Regions from separate parts of the Homo sapiens genome. Here region 2 is linked to region 1. Evidence: fine-mapped QTL for protein levels in blood plasma. Region 1 holds a variant in brackets. A gene starts in the other region. All regions are shown on their reverse strands.

Region 1 (8,000 bases):
TGATCACACCCTGCCATAGAACCTCCAATGGCTCCCCATTGTCTCCCCCATCATGTCAGATACCCTCTGGCTATTTCTCAAGTCTTCAACCCTTCGACCTCCACAATCAGCCCACCCCACTTTCACTACAGTCCTCTAATAGAAGGGTGTCCCCTAGGAAGGGACATTGCCATGCTCCTTCCTTCCTTCCTGTCATCGTTCCTGCTGTGATTTCCCCAGTCCATTCTTCAGGGTTGAGGCCAAGAGCTGCTGCCTCCTCCAGGAAGGTTTCCAAGATTTCTCCAGTCCACAATGACCTCTTCCCTTCCCTGAATCCCTGTAACCCTCACTGGGGTTTGTTTGTTTGTCTGAGACAGTTTCACTCTGTCTCCCAGGCTGGGGTGCAGTGGTGCAGTCTCTTGGCTCACTGCAACCTCCACCTCCCAGGTTCAAGTGATTCTCGTGCCTCGCCTCAGCCTTCCCAGTAGCTGGAATTACAGGCACGCACCACCACACCCAGCTAATTTTTATATTTTAAGTAGAGATGGGGTTTTGCTATGTTGACCTGGCTGGTCTCGAACTCCTGACCCCAAGTGATCCGCCTGCTTTGGCCTCCCAAAGTACTGGAATTACAGGCATGAGCCACTGCACTCAGACTGTCCTTACGGTTAATATTACTTAGCACTCAATCATATTTCATCAGGGTATTTTTCACTGTTTCTTATGTGTTGATCACATCTTCCTCTGTCTGGCCTAATGCAATGGGCAGGGAGAACAGGCCCAGTGAATACCTGCTGGCTGGCTAAGCAGTTGGGAGGTAGGTGAATGTGGGACCACTTCTCTGGGAACATGAGATCTTAGATTTCCACCATGACAAGGGCCCACACACTTGATTTCGAGGTGGTTTTTCCAGGGGTGCTGACAGGTGTACCTGGAGGATGGCATGGGGACTGGTATGGACAGCCTCCATGGGTAAAGGGGGGCCAGAGTCTCCTCCATCCTGTATTCCTGCCATTCTCACCAGGCTTCTGAGCTGAGGAGAACCTTCCTTGGCCTGGCAGAGCTGGCCAGGGCTGTGGGGAGGGCAGGGTAGGGCAGTTCCTCCTCCCAAAGGAAGGCACTCCCTTAGCTCCTCTTCCTTCTAATTCTCAGAGCAAAATGCACTCTGATGGAGGGCTTGAGGGTTAGGAAGGGCCTCTCGCTTCATTAGCCCTCCCTGTAGCTCTGCAAGGCAGATGAGCACAGAGACCCAGGGTCAGTAGCTGGGCGGTCATCTCGCCTGGGAAGCCACTCACTCCAGTTTGTGTCGCGGCTGGTGGTTTTAGGACTCAGTTACAGCACATTGATGGCATGACTCGCTCATTAATCTCTTCACCCCAGCCGGATTCTAAATTCCGTCTAGGCAGCGGGTACCATGTCCTATTGTTCTAGGATCTGGTCTCTTTCCTGCTTCCGACCTGAAGGTAGGGACCCTTGACTCATGCATCCTTATACTTATTAGATGCTTAATAATATTGAATAGTGATAATGAAACATCTGTGACTGGAACATCATAGTCTCTCCTCCCTTCCCTCGCCACACTGAGATACAACCCACTCCCTCCGCCCAGGGCTGCCCAGCAGATAGCAGAGCCTTCATGGACCTTAAGGGTTGGCTGCTGTTTACTGCGACCTTTGGAGGCAAGTTCAAATACTGCCTTAAGAAAGGTCCCACTTACTGGGTGTGGGACCTTAGGCATCACTTACCCTGTACCCCAGCTGAGGTTCCTCCTCTGTGGATGGACTTGGCTGTACTCTGCATCTCCATGACAGCAGCACTCGCCAGCTTGTTTTCTGCCTCTACCCATTTCTGCATTTAAGCTCGTTCAATACAGGCATTCTGGGCACCCCCTGCCCCCAGGGCTGGCATGTGGGAGGTGCAGGGTGAAAGTGTGCTGAATGAATGAACAATTCTTATCTCAGAGTTGTGTGGACAACACACAACATTTAAAGCTCCTAGCACAGAGCTAGCATATAATAGGAACTTTATAATTTTTTAGAAAGTATTTTAAATTACATAAGTATTACACAAATACATTCTTGTGAAAAAGTCCGCCCAAACTTGCCACCCCAAAATTTTATTTTGAGACAGGGTCCTGCTCCATTGGCCAGGCTGGAGTACAATGGCATGATCATGGCTCACTGCAGCCTCAACTTCTTGGCTCAGGTGATCCTCCCACCTAAGCCTCCTGAGTAGCTGGGACCACAGGCATGTGCCACCACACTTGGCTAATTTTTAAATTTTTTGTAGAGATGGGGGTCTCCTTATGTTGACCAGGCTGGCTTTGAACTCCTGGGCTCAAGCAGTCCTTTTGCCTCCACCTCCCAAAGTACTGGGATTACAGGCATGAGCCACCACACCTGGCCTGAAAATTTAATTCCTTCACCAGAAATACTTGATGCTATCAGTTTGGTGTAACGTCATGATTTTTTCCTATCCGTGTGTATGCGTGTAAATATATAATTTTGCTTCAGGGGTTCTTTTTTTCCTGTTCTTTTTACACAAATGGAACCACACTGTAGTTTCATTTTACAGCTTGGTTTTTGACTTCCAATAAGTCTGTGCAATCTAGCCACGTAATTACTATTATATTCCACCATGTGGATTCCCATGGTTTTATTTAGCCATTCTGTTATTGGTGGCCATTTATGTTGTTTATGATATTTTACTGTTTAGCATTGCAGCGGTGAACATCCTTAGTCATACCTCTTTGTGCATCTGTTTCTCTAAGACAGATACCTAGAAAGAAAAAGGCCTAGCTGAAGGGAATGTGCATTTTACATTTTATGACATCTGCCAAACTGCCCTCTAAAAAGGGCACTCCAATTTATGCTTCTGTGAACAGGGTATGAGAAGACCTTTGCCAACATCAATATTTTGCTAGTCAAATGGGTGGGAAAATAGTATCTTGTTATGCTTTTAATTGGCATTTCCCAGATAATAAGGTTGAACATCTTTTCCTATGTTTATTGGCCATTTGTGCTGCTGCTTCTATGAGCTTAGCAAATGTTGCCTCCTCTGACTTTACAACCCTGCAGTCTCAACAGACTGTGCTTCCTGTCTGCCCTGAGGAGAGCAGGCCATGAATGTCCAGAAGGTCCCCCATGCTGTGTCATATTCCATTTAATAAGCAGTCACTCAGCACCTACTAAGTAAAGGGGCCTTGTGCTAGGGGCTATGGGAAGGAGGAGATAATAAGGTGTGATCTCCTGGGCTTTAGTCTAGTTCAGGAGAAATGGAAGTGCAAAGTAGACCAGTAAAGGCTCAAAACAAATTATTAGCCAACTGTATGGGAAGCAGTTTTAGAGCATTTGGACTGGAAGACATTCCTCACTTATTTGCCCTACCTGACCTTTTGCAGCGTGGCCTCAAAAATAACATCACCCTTGAAGGAGATGATGATGTTTGGAGTAGGCACAGCAAGTATACTTTACCCAAGGCTGAACAAGTTCTAGAGGCTCCCATGACAGCCTGTAAGCAGTAGTGACTTCGAGGGCTGGCCTTTACCATAGGCTACTAAAGTTGCCACAGAGGGACTCCCCATTGTCCTTTAAGTAGATGGGTTGGTTGCGCACCAGAGTCTTCACTTCTGGGGCACAGAGAGAACAGCTCTTAGAACAACCCCTACTTTTTAGTGGTGAGAAAAAAAGAGGCAGGGTGGGGTAGGTGACTAGTTGCTGGCCCAGGGCCAACTCCTGGCCACAGCA[A/T]AGCCTGAACCAGGGAAAGGGTGTTGAACTTCACTGAGCACCTACTTTACATCAGGCACTATGCCAGGAGCATTAGCTTTCACCACAATCCTAAAACATATTATCTGCATTTAATGTCTTTTTTTTTTTTTTGAGATGGAGTCTTACTCTGTCACCCAGTCTGAAGTGCAGTGGCATGATCTCAGCTCACTGCAACCTCTGCCTCTTGGGTTCAAGCGATTCTCCTGCCCCAGCCTCCCAAGTAGCTAGGATTACAGGCACCTGCCACCACACCCGGCTAATTTTTTGTATTTTTAGGAGAGATGGGGTTTCACCATGTTGGCCAGGCTGGTCTTGAACTCCTGACCTCAGGTGATCCACCTGCCTCAGCCTCCAAAGTGCTGGGATTACAGGCATGAGCCACCGCGCCCGGCCAGAAGTATTTTTTTAACCTGTATTTTGCTATTAGAAAATTAAGATTTATCTAGGTAAGTAGGTTGCGGCCACATGGGTATCCTGATGGAGTGGCCCAATGGGCAAAACTAGACTCCAAATCTCGTGTTGCTTCTGTTGTGTACCCAAATGACTAACCTACACTCCCAGTTTTCCTGGTTTCCTGGCTTGGAAATTGTCATGAAATTGAAGAATGCATTTAGAAGAGAGGGAGAGAGCTGGCCCGGCTTTCCAGCCTGCCGCATGCTCTTCCCGCCCCCGGCCTGCAGTTGTTGGGGCTGCTCCCCATGCCTCTTTGCCAGGAGGCTCAGGTCCCTTTCAGCCTCCCCGACCACCCCTCCCTGCTCTACTCATGTGGTCCTGAACCCTTGCCCTTGAATTGCTGTTTTTTCATGACCATGTGGATGATGTTGTGAAACTGGATTAAGAAAATGTTGGAATGAGATTTGGGAGGCCTGGTTTCTCGTCTCAGCTTCTGCCCCTCCTTAGCTATGGATGTGAGGAGGTCTTTCTGCTTTCGGCATTTTAGTTTCCTGGTTTATAATGCGACAGAAATAGATGAGATGACCCCAGAGATTCTAAAATTCCATCACGGCAGGTTGGGGGGTGAGACTGGAATCATGATCTGCACTCTCTTTATTACCTAGATTACCTTGTACATAAATTCTAAATTAAATATTTGAGTGAATTCTCAGACCTCGCATATACGTCTCTTCTAAAGGCACATACGTGAAGCATCCTTATAAAAACTCTTTTTGGCCGGGGGTGGTGGCTCACGCCTGTAATCCCAGCACTTTGGGAGGCGAAGGCAGGCGTATCATGAGGTCAGCAGATCGAGACCATCCTGGCTAACATGGTGAAACCCCCTCTCTACTAAAAATACAAAAAATTAGCCGGGCGTGGTGGCAGGCACCTCCCAGCTACTCGGGAGGCTGAGGCAGGAGAATGGCGTGAACCCGGGAGGCGGAGCTTGCAGTGAGCCGAGATCGCACCACTGCACTCCAGCCTGGGCGACAGAGCCAGACTCTGTCTCACAAAAAAAAACAAAACAAAAAACTCTTTTTAAAAAAAAAACCTTTGGCCCAGCACAGTGGCTCACGCCTGTAATCCCAACACTGTGGGAGGCCAAGGCGGGTGGATCTCTTGAGGCCAGGAATTCGAGACCAGTCTGGCTAACATGGTGAAACGCCGTCTCTACTGAAAATACAAAAATTAGCTGGGCGTGGTGGCACATGCCTGTAATCCCAGCTACTTGGAAGGCTGAGGCACAAGAATCGTTTGAGCCAGGGTGGTGGAGGTTGCAGTGAGTCAAGATTGCGCCACTGCACTCCAGCCTGGGCGACAGAGCGAGACCTTGTCTCAAAAAAAAAAAAAAAAAAAAAAAAACCAAAGGGTTGTCCAGCCTTTACTGAGCAGATACTGTGTGCTCAGTCTTTAAGATACCACCTTGTGTGTCTGGGTGTCTACTATGTTCCAACATTTTCTAGACACTAAGGAAGCAAATTTAAAGGCAAGTCAGAATTCTACCCTCCCCTGTGAGAGGTTGGTAGGTAAATGAATGAATTGTGCTGTAGCCAGGGCAGGGTTGTTTTAGAAATACTAAGGGAAGGACTGTGCAAGCAACTCCCTAGCCCTGCCTAAGGGCCTCAGGGAAGGCGGTGCCTAGGGAGAGGCAGTGTACCGCCATTGACCTGAACAGGACTGCTTGGCAGGGACAGTGGGGGAAGGGCATGGAGTGGGGTCCTAAGGGAGGTGGTCAAAGAAATCCTCTAGGAGTTTGGAGTCTAGAGTGCCTCAAAGTTTTTCCCATAGCACTGTCTATGGGGCTGACAAAGCAGAAAATATAATAGCCAATGTTCTCTCTGCTTTAAAAACCAGACTGCTTGTCAGGGAGGCCGTGGGATGTTCACATATGGGGTGGTCTGCCAGAGCCCTCTGCCGCTTTATTAAGAGGCCAGTACACTCGTTAAAGGAGTTAATGGACCTCAGTACTTACTACTGATTGCTTAGTAATTCAGTACTTGGTAAATAAACATGATACTATGCTAGTGGCGGGGTAGGGGGAGACCAATTGGATATAGTCCCTGTCCCAGAGGCACACATTGTCAAGTGGAGGAGGCAGGAATGTTTCCAACAAGCCTCAGTGGCAGTCAGAGCGTGGGGCTTGCTCTGTGCTCCTGTGTAAAGAGCCCAACATGAAGCATAAAGGAGCATGAGAGCAGCTTCTGGAGGACTCCAGGAAAGCTTCCTGGAGGAGGCAGGCATCCTTTGAGAATTTCAGTAAGTGCAAAAGAGGCTGGGTGCAGTGTAATCCCAGCACTTTGGGAGACCAAAGTGGGAGGATTGCTTGAGCCCAGGAGTTCAAGAGCAGCCTGGGCAACATGGCCAGACCCACTCTCTACAAAAAAAATATTTAATTAGCTGGGCATGGTGTTGTGCACCAATGGTCCCAGCTACTCAGGAGGCTGAGGTCGAGGCTGCAGTGAGCCATGATCATGCCACTGGACTCCAGCCTGGGTGACAGAGTGAGATACTATCTCAATAAATTATAAACAAACAAATAAAAAAGTGTTAAAGAGGAGGAAGGCATTTCAGGAAAAGGAACTACTGAGGGCAAAGAGAAGGAGGCATGACTTCTGGGTTGTTTAGGGAGTAGTAAGAGATCTGGTAACTAGGGTGCAGGGGTTAGGGAGGATGGGCAAGAAGAGACAGAACTAGAAAGCAAGATGGTCACATCCTCAGTGGTCTTCCTGCCATAGTGAGAAATTTAGGCTTCGTTGTCCAGTGGAGAGCAGGGGTGGAAGAGAATTGGACACATAGTTTAGGAAGATAACCTGGCAGGACAATAAGTATTCCCCAGAGAGAGGAAGTTTAGAAGCAGGACCAGGTAGGAGAACATTACATTTGGCCTTGACTGAGGGTTGAGGTAATGAGAGGCAAACTTGAAGGAATTGCTAGAACTGGTCCTGGTTGGAGGGGAGGGAAAAATTTGTCTGGTATTGGGAGCTGGGCTGGGGATAGGGTTCATTATCTGAGGTAGAGAATCTTGGAGGAAGAGCAGGTTTGAGGCAGGATGATACAGTGAACTTTTCATTTTCTTATGTATTCTGATGAGCAGAAGTTTTTAATAAAGTCCAACTTACCCATTTTTTTCCTTTATTGGTTAGTGTTTGTGTGTGTTATCTCTAAGAATTCTCTGTCTACCGCAAGGTCTTTAAGATATTTTCTCTTAGGAGGGGGTGGATTTTTGAGCTAGGGTTTGGATAAGCTGCTTTTGAGAAGCCAGCAGATTGGTGTCAATGGGGACAGGTTTTTTTTTTTTTTTTTTTTGAGACGGAGTCTTGCTCTCTCGCCAGGCTGGAGTGCAGTGGCACAATCTCAGCTCACTGCAACCCTTGACTCCCTGGTTCAAGTGATTCTCCTGCCTCAGCCTCCCGAGTAGGTGGGGTTACAGGCATGTGCTGCCATGCCCAGCTAATTTTTGTATTTTTAGTAGAGACGGGGTGGGGTTTCACCATGTTGGCCAGGATGGTCTTGATCTCCTGATCTCATGATCTGCCCACCTTGGCCTCCCAAAGTGCTGGGATTACAGGTGTGAGCCACTGCGCCCGACCCCAGGGGACAGGTTTAGTCAGATTCCAGGGTGGTCCTCATGGAGGGGACGCACAGGCAGGAGGGCAGGGAGAGAAAGCACAGAAAGCAGACCTGCTAGGAGAGGACCAGGATAGGGAGGGGCAGGGACAAGGACATGGGACTTCTGGGAGCAGGTGGCCGGGGGTCAACGTCCAGGAGGATTTCCTGAACCAGTTAGAGGACTACTGAACCCCCCTTTCACCTATCTAT
Region 2 (12,712 bases), not on the chromosome of region 1:
AAACTCCAGTTCCCAGAGCCGAATGGCTTTCCCTGAACCAGTATGAGGCCACAGGCTCGGAACACATGCCTGGAGATCAAGGCAGAGAGGAGAGCACTCCCTGCCCAGAGTCTCGCGACATGTACCCAGTCCTCCAAACCAGCTCGATGCCCCCTCCTGACTGGGTCTTCCTGGGTCTCCTCCATCACAAAATGAAAGCACTTGGCTCTCTGGCTGCAAGGTGGACCCAGACTCCCCTGGCCCGAATTCTGTTTCCATACCAGTCTTCCCAAATCCCAAAATGTGAGAGCTCGATGGGGTCAGGATCTCTTGCATCTCCAGGCCCCTGCCCCGCTCTGGCCAGCTTGGACCCTGCACTCAACAGGGGCCAGCAAGTATCTGGGGAGCACAGTCTAGTGCCCCAAACCTTCTGGCCATCTGATTCCCTGGCCCAGGTGGCCAGGTGCCTTGACACTTGGGGGCAGCTTGAGACGTGGGGGTGGCCTTCATGCTCGCTTATGCCCTAGACTACCCCAGCTGGTTGTGCTGAGGCCATCAGCGCCTGGTTGTCCAGAACTCTCCCTGGCTTCCCTGAGTCCTGTTTCGGGAGGTGCTCTCCTGTGATTGGCCTACGCCTGCTGGACCCCAAGCCTCAGCTTTGGCGTTGAAAGTACCACCATCAGTGGTCCTGCCTCTCTGGAAGGTGAACGGTTCCTTCTTAAGAGTTGGCAAGAAATAGGAAATGGGGGAGTTCCTGAGCTTAAGGATGGGAGAGGCACCTCCCTCCTCACACCCTAGGGACCCATTGGTAAGGCACAAAGCATGCTTCCCACATTCTGTCACTCCAGGAGGCTTCCAGGCACAGCCCCAGCCCCTCGAGGGGCTCCTGTGTCCTCTCCTAGCCCCAGATGCTGGACCTCCCTGGTACCTGAGTGTAGTCTTGGCTAAAAGATCCTAGAAAAGTGACCACAAGGAAACAACCAGAAAGGGGACTGAGAGGGCCGGACCCGGCTCCTCCAGCACCAGTGGCAGGAGATGAGGGAAGGGGGCCTACCTGAGAGGGCTGCCGTCAGCAATCCAGTGATCCCGAAGAAGAGCCACATGTCTGGAGCTGTCTCTGGCTGCTACGCGTGGCTGCCTGTGGGAAGCACCATCTTGGGGCCGGGAGGTGGACACGGCCGTTGTGCGCCCCTGGCGCAGGTCTGCTCTACCCTTTGCTGTTCTTGTTCCTGTGTCTCTCTCTGCTCTCTCCTCTCCGACACGCATGCGATCAAACCCAACCTGTGAGTGTCTCACGCCTGCTTGTTCTGCTTGTGGTTTTGGTCTGCAGGAAGCTGGGCTGCTGTTACAGGGGCTGGTGGGGAGAGCCCCAGCTGCCTGTGCTGGGAGCCCACCCATCCAGGCTGCACCCCAAGAGTCACGGAGCCAGACACACGCATGCACACGCATCCATGCAGACACACTTCCCCGAGGGTCTTCTAAGAAGAAGGGAAGTGGAAGAGCCATGCCTCATTTCTGGTGGCCCAGAAGAAAAAATTGATAATGTAGTAGCTGCTCAATCAGTACATATTGGAAGAGGGAGTGAATGACCCATTGCCTGTCCCGGTCCGTGTAATTTGGCTCTCTTGGATTAAATCCTGAGTTTTATCTTAACCTTAGGTGCAATGGTGGTTGGGAAGGAGGGTGTGGTCTTGATGCACTTTTGGAGATAAGAGCCTAAGTCTCCCCTCAGAGAAATATAAATTGGGAAGGGCCTGAGAGATGGCCATCCCACAAGTCCTTCTACAGGGAAGGGTGCCAAGGCCTTGTGGGAGCCGCCCCGTCAGATGGCACAGTGGGGCCAGCTATCCCATCTCCAGGTACCAGACTGGGCATGCCTCCGTGGGAGTCAGGCATGGGAGCTGGGTCTACAAGGCTGAGCAGGATTTTGACAAACAGCAATCATGGGAGGCCTCTGGGCCAGAAGGAATAGCAGGAGCAAAGGGCTGAAGGAAGGAAGCCCAGGGCTGCCTGAGAAACCCCGAGTTGCCCCATTGCACTGCAGCAGACTGACGCTATAGGAAGAAGGCAGGGGCCAAGCGTGTTTAATTCCCATGGTACTCCCTGTGGAGCATATGGTAGGAGGTGAATAAATGTTTATTGAATGAGAAAAGGAATAGATAATTTGGTTGTCCAAGCAGGGCCCTGGAAGTGGTCAAATCCAGAAGGGGTTTGGTTCCAAATCCTGGCCCTGCCTCAATTGGTCCCATCCCAGGTCCACCTCTCCTGGCCCTCCACTTCCTGCATCCTTGCTTGTCTTCATTTCCCCAACATGTGGAATGAGGAGCGGTCCTCCTCCATTGGGTTCGGTCCTAAATGTGGGTGTATGCATTTGATGCGGCAAGTATTAGAGCCACGGGGAACCAGGCGCCCCCAGAGTGAGACTCCTCCCAGTCCTGCCCCAGCGCCGGCACCTGCTGCCGCTGCCCTCTGGTGGAAGTCACTGGCAGCACAGGTTTGCATGGGTGCCTCGAGCTCCCAGATGCAATTCCATTCATTTACACAGTCTTGGTGTGCAGAACTCTGGACAGGACTCTGTGGAAGTGAAAGAGAGGAAACCATATTCCTGCCCTCAAGGAGGATGAAGTTCACACACACACAAGTGACCAAACCACAGGCCAAGGTAGGACACACATAATGTGAGGTCTCCTGGTCCTAAGAGGAACCCGTTTGAAATGGGCCGGGAAGGATGGCTAGACTCCATTTCTGACAATATGGTAGACAGCAGATGCTGAAGAATTCTCCTAATACAAAACACCACAAAAATATTGTAAACCATCTTTTAAAATGTGTAGCTGAGGTGGTGAGAAATGAAGAAAATCATCAGAGATCAAAAACGACAATAAGCCTGGGCAACATGGTGAAACCCTCTCTCTGCAAAAGGTGCAAAAAATTAGCCAGGTTTGGTGGCACACACCTGCGGTCTCAGCTACTCAGGAGGCTGAGGTGGGAGGATCGCTTGAGCCCAGGAGGTCAAGGCTTTAATAAGCCAAGATTGCACTGCTGTACTCCAGCCTGGGCAACAGAGTGAGACCTTGTATATGTTAATATATAAAGACAACAAAAATCCAAAGAGATCACAGCCAGCAGAGAAGTATCTGTTGATCCAGTTGACCAAGAGCTTCAGTCTTATGAACATGGACAAAAGTTAAAGCTGAGAAACAAAATCGAAGTGAAAAACAAAATCCAAAATTTCTGCCTTAAACAAAGAGCACTGAAATACAACATCCACAGTGGAGAACTCGGAGAGAAAAATTCCTTAAAGCGAGCTGACACAGAGCTTGCCCAACTCAGTATGGACTCTGAGTGGGAGAAAAATAAATGTCAACCCTGAATGCCCCTCACCACAAGTCTACCCACTAATAGGCCTGGAGGTGAAACTCATGGTGACTTTGTGGCAAAAACAACCACACAAAAAACAAACAAACAAAAAGATAAGATAAGAATTTAAAGTAAGGTAAATAATAGCTCCTTAGGCACGTGGCAGAAACAAATGATAAAAATTGTCTCTGGAGTAACTCATCCTATATTCATGACTCAAAGAAATCCCACAGAAAAACTCCCATGGAACATGAGTTCACATGTTTGTAAAACAGAAAAATCATAAAACACAGGACACAAGGTGCTTTAGGTGAGAGGAGCACCAAGCAATAAACTAAAAATGCAGACCTTCGAACACATCTCAGATGTTGGAATTGCAGTATATATAATATAAAATAAGGATGTTTCATATGCTTCAAGAATTAAAAGTTGGTAATTGAAAGTATAGATAAGGAACAAGAGACTATTTAAAGTGACCAGGAAGATTGAGGGAAAAAAAGCAAGCAGTTATGTAAAAACATAATTTTTGAAAATAGAAGCCCAGTGTACAGATTAAACAGTAGATTAAGGCTCAGCACTTTGGGAAGCTAAGGCAGTCTGATGGCTTGAGGCCAGGAGTTCAAGACTAGCCTGGCTAACACAGTGAAACCCTGTCTCTATTAAAAATACAAAAATTAGCCAGGTGAGGTGGCACATGCCTGTAGTCCCAGCTACTCAGGAGGCTGTAGCACAAGAATTGCTTGAACCCAGGAGGCAGAGATTGCAGTGAGTCGAGATTGTGCCACTGCACTCCGGCCTGGGTGAGAGTGAGACTCTGTCTCAAAAATAAATAAATAAATACATACATAAAAATAAACAGCAGATTAATATGGCTGAAGAGACAACTACTGGGGTGAACAATAGATTTGAAGAATTTACCCAGGATGGAGCACAGGAGGACAAAGTGGTGGAAAATATGAAAGAGGCTAAGAGACATAGACAAGGAACAAGGATTTAAATATGTCTAATTAGAGTTCTAGAAGAAAATGGAAAATTTCTAGACTTGATGAAAGACACAATCCTCAGATTCTGGAAGCTCCCCCAACCCAAGCATGATAAATAAAAAGAAATCTACACCAAACATTTTTGGTAGCAAAACTGCTGATCACTAGACAGAAGATGGATGAATGATGAAGTAGATGGGCAGCTAATATGTCAATACCAATAACTAAAGCCAGAAGGCGATGGAACAACATCTCAAAGTACTAATAAAAAAATAACTGTCAACCTTGACTATCTTTCAAGTATAAGGTTTAAAAGACACATTTTCAGATGAAAATTGAGAGCATTTATAGCTAACAGACTCTCACCTAAGGGAATTCTAAAGGATGTTCTTCAAAAACAAGAAAAATAATCTCAGAAAAAAAAGTCTAAGATTCAAGTAAGAATGGTGAGCAAAGAAATATGTAAACACAGAAGTGGATTTAATAAGCACTGATAGCATAAAATAATTACAAAAATGTCCACTTTGTGGAGTTAGAAAAAAATGAAATAGGCTGGACATGGTGGCTCATGCCTGTAATCCCAGCACTTTGGGAGGCTGAGGTGGTTGGATCACTTGAGGTCATGAGTTTGAGAACAGCTTGGCCAAAACGGCTAAACCCCATCTCTACTAAAAATACAAAAATTAGCCAGGCGTGGTGGCTCGCATCTGTAGTCCCAGCTATGCAGGAGGCTGAGGCAGGAGAATCACTTGAAACTGGGAGGTGGAGGTTGCAGCGAGCCAAGACTGCACCACTGCACTCCAGCCTGGGCGACAGAGCGAGACTCTGTCTCAAAAAAAAAAAGAAAAAAAAATTAAAAAAGAAAAAAAAAATGAGATAAAACTAAAGAACCATAAAACAATAACAAATTGGTGAGGAGTGATCAGAGTGGGAAAGGTCTATTATTTGGTGGGAGGGCAAAATATTGACTAGCATTTGACCTTGTTCAATTAAACATGCATGTTAAACTAGTTGAACAATAAAATGGAACTTGTTGGGGAGAGAAGCCTGCTGTAAAGCCAAAGAGGGCAGGAAACGAAAAGAAAGAAATGAAAGGGAGAATAGGACAAACAGAAGCGTTGGTAGGTTTCAGCAGGTAGCTCAGGTGTAGGGTGGCGGGAAGGGTGCTCTTGACAGGGCACAGGGTAAGTAGAGGCAAGACAGCATGATGTGAGTGTTGCTGGGGCTGGATTGACATGATACACCCCAGGCAGCCCATGTTTCACAGACTCGAAGTTTCAAAAATGAAGCTGAAAGGTGCACCCAGCTGGGTGTCCAAATCAATGAGCTCATTTTTATTTAGAACTCTTGGAGCAGGACCTTGTGAACTCAATTTGCAAGGGACACCCAGTGGCTCTGCACCCTGTGGAGAACTCAGGAGTTTTTCATCCAGACTGTATCTCTCTTCTGACCTTCACCCAACAAATTGGAATAAGCAACATTACTGAGGGAAGCCCGACTCTCCCACCAGAAGGAAGAGAGGACCTAGAACTGAAAGGCCGCCACCCTCACCATGTGGCACGTGGGAAAGTTTAATGCTGACGGGTACTTAGTGAGCACTTCCTATTGTGCCAGACACTTTATATGGAACCTTAACCCTCAGTTCTCATTACAACTCAACCAAGTAGAATGTGTCCTTAGCACAGCCTTGCAGATAATGACACTGAAGTTAGAGAGGTAGTTTGCTCAAGATCCCACAACTAAGAAGTAGTAGGGGTAGGCTCTGAACTCAGGTCTGTTTGGATGAAGACCCTGGGCTCTTAACCACAGGGGTGGGTTGTGGTACAAGCATAAAGGCTTTGGCTGAAACATGGCACCACGGGCAGGAAAGGCTCTGGTTCTACGAGACTCTAAATTTTGGACCAGCCCTGCTCCTGGGCCAAGCCAAACCCACTCCTTAGTCTCTTGAATCCCGAAATTTCTCAGTCCTGACCACAGTCTCCAAACCAGCTACAGCCAAACCTTGTGTTTCCTGAGGCCCAGAATTTTCTACCATGTTCTAAATATTTAGCATCTAAATGTACATACATTAGCTCTAATCACTTAGTCACTCATTCAACACAACTTTATCTGTGTTCTAGGTGCTGGGGACACTACACGGACCAAAACAGACAAATATCCCTGTTTTTACAGAGCTTATATTTTAGTGGGAGAGAAACATAATCAACAATAGACATAATAAATAGGTTATATGGAAAAAAAGAAACAGAGCCGTGTAAGAGAGGCTAGGAGTGTGAACAGGGGTTACAATTGTAAATGGGTAGTAGCTTAACTTAGCCTCTTCCCCCTCAAATGGAGCCTGGAACAAGGGCTTGTTTGCGACAGGTTATTTGGGAATGCGATCCGAGGGAACAGGTTGAGGAACAAAGAGAAGAGAAATAGGAAAAGAAGGAAAGTCAATAAAAGGATGCCTCATTGATTTGGCCACACTATGGACAACTAGTACTCGATCTCAGACTTCTGAAATGGTTCTCATAACTATCTGTCCATGTGTGGTCTCCATTCCTACCACCCATTGCACCAGCACTGATGTGGCCAATGGAGAGAAGCTGGCTAATGTCCTCTTGATAGTCGTAGGCCTCCCTGTGGTAGAGCTTCTCTACTGGACATTAACATACATCGTGTCCATCCACATGCCTCTACCCCAGATATCCTTGCCTCTGATTTTCCAGTCTTGTTCCTTCCAGGCCCCTGCCCAGGAGTCCATGTATATCTATACCTCCACTTGTTTCCATATACAGTCCACGAATGACCAAAGGTACTATCCCATCTCTGCCTACTGCCAGTATTTCCCTTTACCATTGTTCTTCAGAGCCACCTCTGAGTGAGGTTATAGTATAGCTTCTGTCCATTTCTGGCTAGTAACAACCGATTGTGCTGCCCCATTTGTGAACCAGGTCTGAAGTTTTCCACTTCTATCAGAAAGAGCTTTCTCAAGGCCATAGATGTGAGTTAAAAGAGAAATATGGGGCCGGCGTGGGGGTTCACACCTGTCATCCCAGCACTTTGGGAGGCCGAGGTGGGTGGATCATGAGGTCAGGAGTTCGAGATCAGCCTCGGCAAGATGGTGAAACCCCGTCTCTACTAAAAATAAAAAAAAAAAAAAAATTAGCCAGGTGTGGTGGCAGGCACCTGTAATCCCAGCTACTTGGGAGGCTGAGGCAGAGAATTGCTTGAACCCGGGAGGCAGAGGTTGCAGTGAGCTGAGATCACACCACTGCACTCCAACTTGGGCAACAGAACGAGACTCAGTCTCAGGAAAAAAGAGAGACAGAGAGAAATATGGATGCAAAAGAGGCAGGTGCCATCTGTCCATGTAACTTACTTGTACCTTCTGGTTCTGTTTGGGTTTGAAGCAATTGTACAGCTGCTGCCCCTCTCCCCAGATCTTATAGCCTGGTGTGTGATGGGGTCTTGTGGTCCCCTAGTTGTTGGTGACCCATCTTCAGGCACAAGTCTCTATCAGGGCCCAGTAGCACCCTAGGATATGATTTTCAAGTGACAAGCATTTCTCTACTGCAGGAGCCATGGCTTTGGTTCAGCACCCTAGAGGTTTGTGCTGCAAAATTCTCTTTTTTGGAGCCTTCCAGAGACTCCATATGGCATCCTTATCCATGTGGCATCTCTGATATGACTGAACACGATTGTCGTAGGGCGTCACAGCAGCTTGCACCATTGCCTGGACCTGCCACAGAGCCTTCTCTCGTGCTGGGCCTCCCTCGGCACTAGCAGCCCCTCAAGTCACATGATAAATGGTCCGACAGAATTCCCCAGGATGCTTTAAAATCCAGAAGTACCCACCCTGTGCTGTGCCTTGTTCTTACTGATGGGGGATGCAAGTTACAAAGGCTTGTTCTTTACCCTAGAGATAATGTCCCAACATGCCCCAGACCTTGGGACCCTTAAAATCTTTCCCAATGTGGCAGCCACCAAAATCTTTTTGGAGCTTATTTCTTACCTTTTAGCATACAGAGGGCAGCAGTTCTCAAATTTTTTGGTCAGAAGACCCCTTTATATTCTTAAAAATTATGGAGGACCCCATAGAACTTTTGTTCATGTGGGTAATATCTACTGATATTTATCGTATTAAAAGTTAAAACTGAGAACTCCGGAAGATGGAGAGTACAATCATGGGTACCAGAGGCTGGGAAGGGTAGTGGGGATGGGGGAGTGGGGATGGTTAATGGGTACAAAAATATATAGAATGAATAAGATTTAGTATTTGATAGCACAACAGGATAATTACAGTCTACAATAATTTATTGTACATTTAAAAACAGCTAAAAGCTTATAATTGGATAGTTTCTAACACAAAGAAAGGATAAATGCTTGAGGTGATGGACACACCATTTACCCTGATGTGATTATTACACATTATATACTTGTATCAAAATATCTCATGTAGGCCGGGGGCAGTGGCTCATGCCTGTAATCCCAGCACTTTGGGAGGCCGAGGCGGGTGGATTGCCCAAGCTCAGGGGTTCAAGACAAGCCTGACCGACATGGTGAAACCCCATCTCTACTAAAAATACAAAAAAAAAATTATCCAGGCGTAATAGTGCGCACCTGTAATTCCAGCTACTCGGGAGGCTGAGGCAGAAGAATCACTTGAACCTGGGAGGTGGAGGTTGCAGTGAGCCGAAATAGTGCCACTGCACTCCAGCCTGGGTGACAGTGAGACTCTGTCTCAAAAAAAACAAAAAAAAACAAAAAAAACTCACATACTCCATAAACGTATGTATACATACACACACCTACTATATACCCATAAAAATTAAAAATTAAAAAAGTTTAAACAAAAAACTGAGACATTTAAAATATTTATTTAATACATTTTAAAATATAAACAGCAAACTCATTACATGTCAATATAAGTAACACTTTCTGTGAAAAATTACTGTATATCCCAAACCCCACAAAATTATTGGGGGCCGGGCATGGTGGCTCACTCCTGTAATCCCAACAATTTGGGAGGTCGAGGGGAGCTGATCACCTGAGGTCAGGAGTTCAAGACCAGCCTGGCCAATATGGTGAAACCCCTTCCCTACTAAAAATACAAAAATTAGCCAGGTGTGGTGGTGGGTGCCTGTAATCCCACCTACTTGGGAGGCTGAGGCAGGAGAATGGCTTGAACCCAGGCTGCAGAAGTTGCGGTGAGCCGAGATGGTGCCAGTGCACTCTAGCCTGGGTGACAGAGCGAGGCTCCGTCTAAAAAAATAAAATAAAATTATTGGGATATTATTGTTTTATATTTTTGCAAATGTCTTGAACATCCAGCTTTGTAGAAGCCACCTGGATTTTCATATCTGCTTCTTCATTTAATTTGTGGAGATATGTTATTTAGATTGAAGTATATGGGAAAAAATCTGGTCTCACAATATGGAGTAGATAAAAGGAGGAGTATTTTAATAGGATTTTAAAAATAATTGTAGATATTCTTTTCTGATATTGAAAAGTTGGCAAGTGATAGTTTCCAAAGGTTAGCTCCAATGTGAAATCTGAAATCATATCAAAGACCTTTTATATATTTTTCAAGTCCATTGTTCTATCTTGTACTTTGAATGGATCTCTTATCCGTGCATGATTTTGTAAAAATATGTCTCAGTCATTGTGGAACATACTGTTCTACAGTCCATTTTTAAAATCCATTGTTCTATCTTGTACTTTGAATGGATCTCTTATCCAGGCATGATTTTGTAATAACATGCCTCAGTTATTGTAGAACATACTGGTTCACAGATGCAGAAGTTATTCAGATCTTCCAAATGTTGACATATTTCGTTACACAGTATCAAAAATCACATTCATTGATATCATCTCTGATCCCATCAGAGAACTTTGAGTATTGGAAAGATGTCAAGATCATGACACGGGTTTTCTAACATTTGAATTTTTACTTAAAAGCTCTGATTTCATCAATGGCAACAAATACTGTCTCTTTCTTTCAAGTGACAGGCTCACTTTATTCATTTTCAAACAATTGTCTGCCAAATTTTTAAGTCTGAATAACCATAGTTTCAAGTAAAAATGGTGTTCCATGGGGGAAAACGTCTAGTTCAGCTGGCAAATCCAAAAATAGCACAAGTGCTTTTTTTCCCAGAGCTACCTTCATACTGTAGTATTCAGCAGGAGTGCTTTTTGCTTACTTCTTATTTGTCACATAGAATAAAGATTGTGCTTTAATAATATTAATAATTTTAACTGCTTCATTGAGGACATTCTTAAATAAAAGAACGCATCCTCTGAATGCATCAGGATGAAAAACTCCAACAGCTACTACTGCAGCTTGATGCCACTGCTATTTTTTTTTTTTTTTTTTTTTTTTTTGGCAAGGTGTCACTCTGTAGCCCAGTCTGGAGTGCAGTGGCGTGATCTTGGCTCACTGAAACCTCCACCTCCCAGGTTTTAATGATTCTCCTGCCTCAGCTTTCTGAGAAGCTGGGATTACAGGCACGTGCAACCATGCCTGGCTAATTTTTGTATATTTAGTAGAGACAGAGTTTAGCCATGTTGGCCAGACTGATCTCAAACTCCTGGCCTCAAATGAACTGCCTGCCACAGCCTCCCAAAGTGTTGGGATTACAGGCGTGAGCCACCGTGCCCAGCCTGGCGCCAAGGCTTTGATTCATGTGAAGGCACAAGTGGTTTTACTCATCATTGCTTTTGCTCCAGGCAAATTATGTCAGTGAAAAAGGCAAATTGTATCTTTATGTTTATATGCAAATAATTTTGAACTCGTGGACCACTGAAAGGGTTTCAGGGATCCTTAGGGGTTCATGAACCTCACTTTGAGAAGGGAGAGAAGAACCATGGTGCTCAGAGCTGAAACTTAGCATCTTGAATATCCGACCTAGTTCTTCTCCTAAGCATTACTTGAGACACGTAAGCTCTCTTCAAGGGGCAGCCCAGCTCTCTGTTCCCCCTTATGTATAGGATTCCAAGGTGCCTGATCAGTTTCCATTGAAGTGTGGTGTCCACTGAACCCAACACTCTATGAAGGAACTAATCAGTCTGGGGTCTAGCAGAGTGAGGTCCCTGATACCAAATTTAACCTTTATTATAACAATCAAAGCCTCCGAACTACATTAGAGGAATTCTGGAAAATTAGGAAAAGAAAAAAAGTCACCTATAGTCACACTACCTTGACAACCACTGTCATGCTGTAGCCTAGGGTGGCCTAAAGGTTGACTCATCCTGAACTTCTTGTTGTTGAAAAAATCCCAGGGCTATTTTTTTGTCTTGATGCTGCTAAGCCACATCATTCTGGCCCTTTCCAGTTGGGTCTTAGGTTCCCAAGAGGGGGACCTGATATTCAGATCTATCCACTTCATTCATATAGAGCTCCCCTGTCAGTGGTCCAGAACCCATTGCCCAATTGGACTAACCCTTCTAGCTTCATGTGATCTGCACATAGAATGCATCCATGTCAATGGCTCTTTCCTAAATTCCCTGTTGAGGCTTAGAAAATGATACCCCAAATAAAGTCCTCCACAGTAGCCTCAGAAGCAACCATTTTTCTCTAACCTTCTGCCCTCAAGTCTCTCAGTCCCATGCTCCCCCAAGATTAGCCATAGAAACTGGAATCCCTCTTCTCCAAGGCAGGTAGAAACAGAACCCTTTTCCCCCAAAGTCAGCCATAAAACCTAATTATATTACTCTACTCTAAGTTTCCCTCCACCTTTCTGTATAAAAACTGGCCATAAAGAAATTTTCTTGGTTTCGGCTTTGTTTGACTCTATGTAGGTTGTAAGACTCCCATTCCAGAGAGAGCCCCGTCCTACCCCCAGAAGGAAGGAATGCAGCACAGAGAGGCCAAAAAGAATCTAGAACCTGGGATACCAAGAAGAATCTAGAACCCAGGATACCTAGAAGAATCTAGCCAGACAGGCCTTGTTTGACTGTATGTAGGTCATAAGACTCCCATTCCAGCGAGAGTCCTGTCCTACACCCAGAAGGAAGGAATGCAGCACAGAGAGGCCAGGAAGAATCTAGACAGACGGGCCTTGCTAGGTTTCCCCACTCAGTCCGTTAGCATTAGATCATACCCTTAGGGAGCCTGGATAGCTCAGTCGGTAGAGCATTAGATCATACGCTTTTTGTTCAATTCTGTATCTACACGGCTGTCCACACTTTGCTGAACCTAAGCATCAAAGTGGACAAGTTCCCTCGTCTCTTTGGGTATTCACTCTGTAGGCTCCCATGTACACACATTAAATACATCTGTATGCTTTTTCTCCTATTTATATGCCTCTTCTCTGAGATTTTTCAGTGAAACTTCAGAGGGCAAAAGGGAAGTTTCCCCTTGGTGCCCCCACACCCCATGGGAATCTTGGATTATAGCTCTTGATGGT

Direction of the effects. Alleles are on the strand shown, and positions count from the first base shown. The strength of an association depends on the size of the effect and on how common the allele is.
In carriers of allele A in region 1, the plasma level of the protein whose gene starts at base 1,268 in region 2 tends to be lower than with T alone (weak association).

What was found. PIP is the chance, under the fine-mapping model, that this variant and not a neighbour inherited with it causes the effect. Protein levels are from antibody-based Olink assays in UK Biobank. Linkage for the fine-mapping came from a reference panel and not from the study's own genotypes, which makes the PIPs less certain.
Region 2: it holds the start of CD6, and the variant in region 1 is fine-mapped to the plasma level of the CD6 protein (UK Biobank, PIP 0.98).

The regions. Positions count from the first base shown.
Region 1 is chr2:25,261,676-25,269,675 of GRCh38, reverse strand. The region is part of intron 6 of DNMT3A (DNA methyltransferase 3 alpha); the gene reads left to right. Among named protein-coding and RNA genes, the nearest start is that of LINC01381, 61 kb to the right of the region's middle. RefSeq lists enhancers at 4,508-5,092, 5,093-5,676. The variant A/T (reference allele first, on the strand shown) is at 3,726.
Region 2 is chr11:60,960,236-60,972,947 of GRCh38, reverse strand. CD6 (CD6 molecule) reads right to left here and starts at 1,268. Exons shown (of 13, transcript NM_006725.5): 1 at 1,034-1,268. The coding sequence starts at 1,082.